Linked DNA regions of Homo sapiens: region 1 is linked to region 2. Evidence: fine-mapped expression QTL. A gene starts in region 2. The other region holds a variant in brackets. All regions are shown on one strand. Distances are from middle to middle. Region 1 overlaps POPDC2 (popeye domain cAMP effector 2). Region 2 holds the start of ADPRH (ADP-ribosylarginine hydrolase).

What was found. PIP is the estimated chance that this variant, and not a neighbour inherited with it, causes the effect. A credible set is the group of variants that fine-mapping cannot tell apart.
Region 1: its variant is the best candidate, but not a certain one, in a credible set for the expression of ADPRH in thyroid (GTEx, PIP 0.76).

What each region holds. Positions count from the first base shown.
Region 1 is chr3:119,645,796-119,650,187 of GRCh38, forward strand. POPDC2 (popeye domain cAMP effector 2) reads right to left here. Exons shown (of 4, transcript NM_001369919.2): 3 at 2,324-2,873. The coding sequence ends at 2,367. Among named protein-coding and RNA genes, the nearest start is that of POPDC2, 13 kb to the right of the region's middle. The variant C/T (reference allele first, on the strand shown) is at 2,241.
Region 2 is chr3:119,577,063-119,581,454 of GRCh38, forward strand. ADPRH (ADP-ribosylarginine hydrolase) reads left to right here and starts at 2,430. Exons shown (of 5, transcript NM_001125.4): 1 at 2,430-2,789; 2 at 3,489-3,574. RefSeq lists enhancers at 2,034-2,535, 2,320-2,419, 3,360-3,579 and a silencer at 2,600-2,739.

The DNA.
Region 1 (4,392 bases), 69 kb after region 2:
GTCTACTGTACTGCGGACTGACTACTCCTCTTTTCTTCCTTTGAAAAACTTATCCTTGCCTTCTCAGATCAATCCAAGGGGGTTCCTGGGGACAGCTGGTCCAACACGCTCAAATGAAGAAAGTAAGGTTTAGTGAGGTATGGTTTGCAAAAAGTCACATATTTGATTAGTAGCAAAGCCAGACATAGAAGCCAGGACTTTGGACTCCCAGTCCTGGCCTCTTTCTCATTTACCATGCTGCCTGCCTCCTGATGTTTGGAAAACATTCCTAAAGCTGGGGATTTTACACCTTCACTTGAATGGTTTTCTTTATAGGCAGAGGGAAAAGTACTGATCTTTGGAAGAGTTAGGATTAAAAACTAATAAGATGGGGGTACAGGGTGTTTAGGAGGAAGAATAGATACAGCAAGGCAAAAAAGGTGGGAAAAAGAAAAAAGGAGGTAATAGGAGAGATAAATATATGAACAATAAAATGGAAGAAAACAAGAGACAAGTGAAGAGGGAGAAATGAACTGAGAAGACATAGAAAATGGACACTTAAGAGCAGCAAACTGGCCAGGCATGGTGGCTCATGCCTGTAATCCTAACACTTCGGGAGACCAAGGCAGGAGGATTATTTGAGCCCAGGAGTTCGAGAACAACCTGGGCAACATGGGGAGAGTTTGTCTCTACAAAAAAATTTAAAAATTAAACATTATCCAGGCACAGCGACATGTGCCTGTAATCCCTGTTACTTGGGAGGCTGGGATGGGAGGATCGCTTGAGCTTTTGGAGGTAGAGATTGCAGTGAGCCGACATCATGCCACTGCACTCCATCCTGAGTGACAGAGTGAGACCCTGTCTCAAGAAAGAAAAGGAAAAAAGAACAGAACATCAAACTGAGGCAATCAAGGACTGAGAAGAAATTGGAGAAGAAAGAAGAGAAAAATAGAACCAAGAAAAGAGAAGAAAACCAGGAAGAACAACATGAGAAAACAGAGAGCTGCTGTGAGTCGAAGAGAGAGTGTATAGGTGGATGGGCAAGTTGGACCAAGAGGGATCCATAGGACATAAGGAGCATGCGTGGATGCAGGATGAACGAGTAGGAAGGCGAACAGCTGCACAGAGGGAAAGGAGTGATCAGAGTTGTCAATGCACACTTCGGGGAACTCAACAAAGTGATCTGGGGTGTTAGATTGATCCTTGGAATTACCTCAGAATGAGCTGAACTATGGTTCTAAGGATGCTGGTAACACAGGAGATTGTAAATTCCATATCTACAAAACTAAATCTCTAACCTTTCATCAGTCATCTCTATGGCCTCTTTCATCATTTATATAACCTGTTTTTCAAAATAGACAAACATTCACTCATTCATTTCATGTACTCTGGAGGCCTTCCTCACTGGGCTAGTTTCTCAGGTAATTTATTGGTGCTTTCTGAAGAACCATGGGAGGCGCCTTCCAAATTGGGAACAATGGGATTTTCCTCAGGAAATTCAGGCCTACATCATGGTTGGGTGGAGTTACAGAGAAAAACATCACAGTATTATGAGGGCAGCCAGGGAAACATGAGAGCAATTTCCCAGAACCACTGGGCACAGCCTTTCTTGTAGACTCTCTGGGAGGGAAATTCTGTGAGGGAAATCCTGCACGCACTGTTAGGCCCTCCAGGATTTATGCACATCCTACCTCCCACAGGTGTGGGTGACTGGGGAAAGCCAGGCTGCCATATACCTATCTGATCATAGTAACATTTAATCATAGCAGTATCTAGTCCTCTGTCTGTGTGATCAACAAACACATTCTCCACTGGGTGAGAGGAAAGCAAGATGAGGACATTTTCCTCCCCGAGCTATTAGCTCATAATCACAATCCTCTTTAAAATATGCAGTTTTAACAGAGATGCCTGCCCAGTCTAGGCTAAATAACAACTGCTTTCCAGGACGGGCTCTGTATCAGGAAAGACAAGCAATCAGAATTAGAACCCTGCCACATTCTTTTTCTTTTAAAATGCATGCCACAAATAAAAGCCCCTTAAGCCCCAGCTGTGGCCTCAGCTATTAGAATAAACTTGCAAAAAAACAGCAATCTACCTTCCTGCTCAACGTATCAACCAGCCCACTTTCTAAAATGCAATCAAGTTAATAACGAATGAGTTTTTAAAATCCCTTCATGCCTTGCATGCACCCGGAGTGAGTTGCTATCTTCAAAGTTGGGTTAATGCCACTTTCTGTGAGTCCTCTAAGAGGAAATGTTCCA[C/T]GAATGATTTTTTTTGCCCTAACAAGCTGAGTTAAGGCCAGCCATTGACAGGAATGTGCAGCGGCTGCCTTCTGAGTACTTACATAGGATCCTGAGCCGGTGGCTGTGCCCATGTTAGTTCTCCCTTCACCTCATGTACTCCCCATCACTCCTATAATCCATAAACGATTCTGATCCTGACACCTCCTCAAAATCCTCCAGCACCAGACTGGTGGAGTCCTCACCCAGTATGCCACTGTCTGGCCTGGACAACCTGGCCCGGGTAGGAGGTGCAGGAAAGTTGGTGGTAGCTGGAGGGGTAGAACAAGGGGGTGTTTGCTGGAGAGAGGTGGGTGTGGCCTGAGGAGGGGACACAGCTGGCTCACAGACTTCCTCATCACCCTTCTCGGACTCTGGTCCAGCATCTGCAGCAGTGGGACCCAGGACATGGTAGAGGCTGGGAAGGCGGATGTCAAAGCGCAGCCCAAACTTAGCAAAGAGCTTGTCATTGAGAGTGTAGAGCTTCTCTGAGATGTCATATCCCAGCAGAGCCGAGAAGAGGCAGGAGATGTATCGCTCTTTGGTCAGAAGAAGATGGAGACTTTTCCGGGGCCAGGAAATGTAGCTACATGAGGTCTCAGCAGTCAGAGTGACCTGAGAGGGGTCAGAAGCAGACAATAAAAGTTTAAACTAGAAAATTTGTCCATGCTGAGCACAGAGATCATTCAGTCACTTGGCAAACAGCTGTACTTTTACTGAAGAAGCTGTGTGGGAGTACCCCTCTATGGCCTTGCCTGGAGGAGGTCTAGTGGATGACTTTCACTTGTGTGCACTGATATGGGGGGGTCCTGTGTCAGGAGCCCTGGGATCAGCCATTCACTCACTCACCCATCACCTCCTGAAGCCTCAGTTTCCACATCCACTTTCCTCAACTGTAATTCTGTGGTTCCGTGGCTAATGCCACTAATGACTGCAGAAAGTTCTGAGTCTTATGATTTTAAGATAGAGAAAGAAGGGGCCTTCTTGTGCTCTGAAGAGTGGTTGAAATGCTGACAACTATTCATTTTAAGAATGAGGAAGGGTAAGATATTGGGGTAGGGACATAAAAAGAGTTGGAAAGTTGAGTTTGAGAAAAAGCTTCTGATGAGGTATGCCAAGCTACATCAGGATCCCAAGCCTGGGATTCAGGTTGGGATACGAGCAAGTTACGAAATTGCTCGTAACTTGGCCATTTCAAGTAACCAAAAGGATCTGATGACTGAAATCAGAAAAAGGGCATAGCGGAAGACAAACTCTAAAGGGTAGAAAATCAAAGGGCACCCCATTCTCCATTTGTTTATTCATCTAGGAATTTCTGAGTACTCACTATGTGCCCATGATGCAAAGCTAAATTACGCTTGCATGGGAAATAAGCAATAACGTGTGCCTAGCATGCAGCAGGTGTTTGATAAATCCTTGTTAAAATAATGATAAGTGGTAAAGCTGGGGTTAAAATGGAAACATGCTTAGGACAGTGCAGGAAAAGGGTGCAGAATCACACAATTTTTAATAATCTAATTGACCCTAATACTTTGGGCTGGCAGAGTTCATGATATATTTTTGTGGATGGAGACAGTGGAAATGATGATGATAATGATGTTAGCAGCTAATATTTGTCAAGAGGTGCCAGGCGTTGTGTTAAGCACTTTATATGAATTGTCAAATTTAAAGTAGGGTAGCTTTCCAAACATTCTTTATTAGAGATTATATATAATCCTTTTCATTCCTGTATTGCCTACTGGATCTCCCATTACCCTCCTCTTCTCTTCTTTCCTTTCTGCTATACCCCTCCCCCACGTCCTTTATTCATTTCCTCCTCTCAACTTTTCTCCACTAATTGCTAGCACTGCAATCAGGACCTAAACTACGTTATCGAGGCCAGAAGTGGTTTCATGTTTCAGCTTTACCTCTATCAGTTGTATGATGTCAGATAAATTACTTAATCTCTCTTGCCTCATGAGAAAGAATTCTGAAAATAATACAATCTGTCCATTACTAATAGTTCAGCAAGTAGTTGTCACATCTGCCATGGCCTGTACCTTAGATGTACTTATGAACAATTCCCAAACAAGAAATCAGAGTACCAAATATGAAGCACATGTGTTTGAGCAAGAACTACGCCGAATGTAAATAA
Region 2 (4,392 bases):
AAACCAGATAGCGTGGATGTGTCGGGAGTCTATGCTAATGGTCACAAAGTTCATAGGCACCATAAAGTTCAAAGCAAACTAATTGCTAACAACCCCAGTTTTTCTGTTTGTTTTTGTTTGTTTGTTTGTGTTTTGAGACAGGGTCTTGCTCTGTCGTCCAGGCTGGAGTGCAGTGGCACAATCTCAGCTCACTGCAACCTCTGCTTCCTGGGCTCAAGCAGTCCTCCCACCTCAGCCTCCTGAGTAGCTCAGACCACAGGCGCATGCCTGGATAATTTTTGTATTTTTTGTAGAGAACAGGTTTCACCATGTTGCCCAGGCTGGTCTCGAACTCCTGGTCTCAAGCAATCTGTCCCCCTTGGCCTCCCAAAGTACTGGGATTACAGGTATGAACCACTGTGCCCAGCCCCAGTTATTCTTTACATTTAAGTCAAAAACGAAAACAAAAAATCACCCTTTCCCATGGATTCTCACAGAAAGATCACTACATAATATGAACAATATCCTCAGCAGACATCTTAAGCTGAAACTGTGTTGAGTTTTATCGGGATGCTTATTATTCAAAATGTCTCTTACTACAGAACTTGCTTTGACTGCATCCTCAGAGGCTGAAAATCTTTGACAGTTGAAAGAATGAAGGATGTGCCATCCCCAAATATGCCATATAATATATTGATTACTTTGAGTTGAAAACATTAGAGAAATTATAGTTTCAGAAAGGGTAAAACTGAGGGCTGACCTGATTAGGCCTGACACTTAATTTGCCTTGCTTGCTTTTGGTCACTTGCTTCTAGTCGATTTTAAAACCTGCATAGCTAAAAGTCATGTAGCTAGACGATACATAACTAAATTCCACTTGCCTCCTTATAGATAACTTCTCTGATAGGACACCATGGAAAATATTGCTTAAGTTATTTTTCAGGAACTTAGAGTCAGTTCTTGTCCAGTTCAAGCCACCAGCCCTTCATCTTGGCCTGCGTGAGTGTCCAATGGGTGACCTTTTGACATCAGAAGGCCCAAAACTCCACTCTCAGATCATGCTAACGTCACGATTTTGTGAACATGTGTTCTATGAACAGCCATGAAGATTGACTATGCTTGCTCAGATTACCGATTGCCTCACTTTTCCTTACCTCATCTTTCTCTGAACCTTGGACCACCTTCCTCCCCTATCCCATAAGCACTCCTAAAATTCCATCTTTGGAAAGGCACATTTGAGGCCTGTTCTCCAGTCTCCTGTCTTGGCTGCCTTGTGAATACACCCTTTCTCTACTGCAAAACTTGTGCGCCTCAGTGATTGGCATACTGTGTGAAAGACAAATGAGCCTGGTTCCCTGACAGGAGCTGAGCTGTCTCTTCCTGCATGCAGCCAGCAATAAAGATTCCTCTAGGAGAGGTATGTTCTCCACGCCAGAGCGAGAAAATAGCTCTCATCACCAGAGATTTGGAACTGGAGGTGGCATTTGGACTGGAGTAAACATTCTTGCAAAGTAACCATTATCTTCCACCTGTTTTACACCCCACCCCCCATATATCTCCTAGGGGCTCCCCTAGAAATTTTTTACCACCCTAGCCGGATTTTCTTTGTCCTGTCACTTCTTCTTAAATTTATCACTCTTTTTCTAAAAAGTATAAAAGCATCTTGCTTTGGACACTTTCTTCAGGATTCAGTCTCTTAACATCCCCATGTACATGTAAAATTAATAAAATTTGTATACTTTTCTCTTGTTAATCTGCCTAGTGTCAATTTGGCTTCTAGATGCAGCTGATTAGCTCACTAAGAGCTAGAGGGTGTAGGGGGTTGGAGGTGATCTCTGCCTCCCTTATTGGTGAACTTGATTTTTGTAAACACTCAAAAGTCACTTAGGCTAGAGTTGGAGATGGAGATGGTTATTCACTGGGAAGGCCACAAGAGAATGTTTTAAAGTGATGGAAATATTTCATATCTCGATTATGGTGTAAGGACATTTCATTATATATAAATTATATATCAATTTTTTAAAAAGCTCTCAGACCAAGGCTAGTCATTACAGCAAGAAAATAGGCATAGCAAATTTAAAACTTTGGAGAAATATATAGAATATTTGCATATGGTGATTCTGATTTGCTTTAAAAGTGACATGATTAATGTATTTAGACAAAAATACTCTTCGTTTTTCTTTGCTTTTATTTACGATCAGGATACAAGAATTCTACGCTGCTGCCAAATAAATGACTAGTTAAAATTAACTAACTGAATCCTTAACAACCATTCTAAGAGGCAGATATTATTATCCCACTTTATGCGTGAGGGCCCAGAACCCTGGCAAGGGCGGCACACTCAGTACGCTCTTCAAGCATCTGGGCACACCCGGTCCACTACAGTCCTACAAAGTCGGACGTGAGCACGGGCGAAGGCGTCAGCCGGGGCCACACGGGAGTCACTGACCACAGCCAGGCGAGAGCCGGCTTTCCGGTGCCGCCACATTCCGGGCACCAGGCTCCGGGCTCTTCAGAGCATTTGGGGCGGGCGACGGAGGTCCCGTCCACTCTCGCTTGGGTGCAGAAGGGCGCGGCGGTGCCAGGAAGCCGCCTTGGAGGCTCCAAGATTAGCTCACTCAGCGCGGCCAAGCGCAGGTGCGGGGGCCCTCGCCGCCACCCTGCTTATCTGGGGACAGTCCCGGAACCCGGTGACCCGGCTCCGCCCCAACCCGCGCCCTCGTCCACCCGCAGCAGCCAAGGCCTCTTCCCCGGCCCCGGGAGCCCGCGCCACGCCCGTCGCTCGCGCGTTCCAGTCCAGGCTACAGCAGGTATCGCGATCCCGGCCCTCGGCCCCGCGCTCCCCTCCCCCGCCCCTGGCGCTCTCCGAGTGTGGCCGACCATGAGGATTCCCAGTCTTGCAAATCGTGGGAGCGTGTCAACCGCCCCGTTTCTTTCCAAAGCCGGGCATGGCCCGGAAGCAGCTGATCAGATCTTAGTTCTGAATGTATAGTTCGGGTACGAGAATGTGACCCGTGAAAGTTCAGAGGAGTTAAGTAATTACAGCGTTCTGAAAGCGAACGTTAAAGGGAATTTACAACCGAAAAAAGATGCCGGTCTTCTTCCCCCATCCCAGCTTGCAATTCACAGAAGCACACATTAGGGTGGAGCCAGAAGGAATTACGGAAAGGACAATGAGGACATTGAGAGGGAGGGTATGGGGGGTTAAAGTTAGTCCTCCGAGGCCAAGAAGCAGAGTGTCTTGGCCTAGTGTCTGAAAATCGCAGCGCAGGACGGAACTTCCGAGAGCCTATACCTCCCCACTTCCCCCTCCAGTTTACAGATGGGCAAACCGCTGTCCCGGGTGTCTGTCAGGTCTAGTAGCCCAGAATCTCAGTGCCTAGGCTTCACTGTAAATAATAAACTATGTAAATAACATTTACAAATATCCTTTGTGAGCTCAGAAACTCAGCATTACCAGTAACTGGGTAGTGGAACGCATCCATCTTCGTCGTTTACTCCTTCTCCAGGGGCTCTCCAGCCTGCATTCCATGGCCAACAGCAGTGCAGCTGCAGAAGCACTTCTGGAAGCCTCCTGACTTGAACTAGACCTTGGGTAAATAGGGTTTAGATAAGTGGAGGGGAGGGAAAAGTTTCACCTGAGGGGAGAATGAGCTAGTCTGCCAGACCCTTATAAAAGTATTGGCCTGGATGGGATGGAGGGCTTTGACCTGAAAGCCACAGGGAGAAGGGAACCCTGAGGAATTGGCTGAAAGAGGGGGGTTCTTAGGAAATGCACCAACAGGGAAGCCAGCGCTTTACCAGGGATTTCATTCATGGTGGGTATATTATTAATAGAGATTCGAATTCTCTAGAAGCTGATCATTTCTAAGAGAAACAATATTTAAACATTACTGTCGAAGGAAAGGTTGTGGGGAGAAAATGTTCTAGTTCTAAAACAGAACACCCATTTTCCCTGGTTGTATATGAATAATACAAATATGTCAAAAATCAAGCTTACTATGTGCCAAGCACTCTAAGAACTTTTTTTTTTTTTTTTTTTTTGAGACAGAGTCTTGGTCTGTCGCCCAGGCTGGAGTGCAGTGGCACAATCTCGGCTCACTGCAACCTCTGCCTCCTGGGTTCAAGCGATTCTCCTGCCTCAGCCTCCTGAGTAGCTGGGACTACAGGCATGCACCACCATACCCGGCTAATTTTTGTATTTTTAGTAGAGATGGGGTTTCACCCTGTTGGCCAGGCTGGTCTCGATCTCCTGACCTCAGATGAGCCACCCACCTCGGCCTCCCAAAGTGCTGAGATTACAGGCGTGAGCCACCGCGTCCAGCCAACTTTATGAAATTTAATTTATTTATTCCTAACAACAAATCCAGGAGGTTGTTACTTTTTAAAATCAGTGCCATTTTATAAATGTGG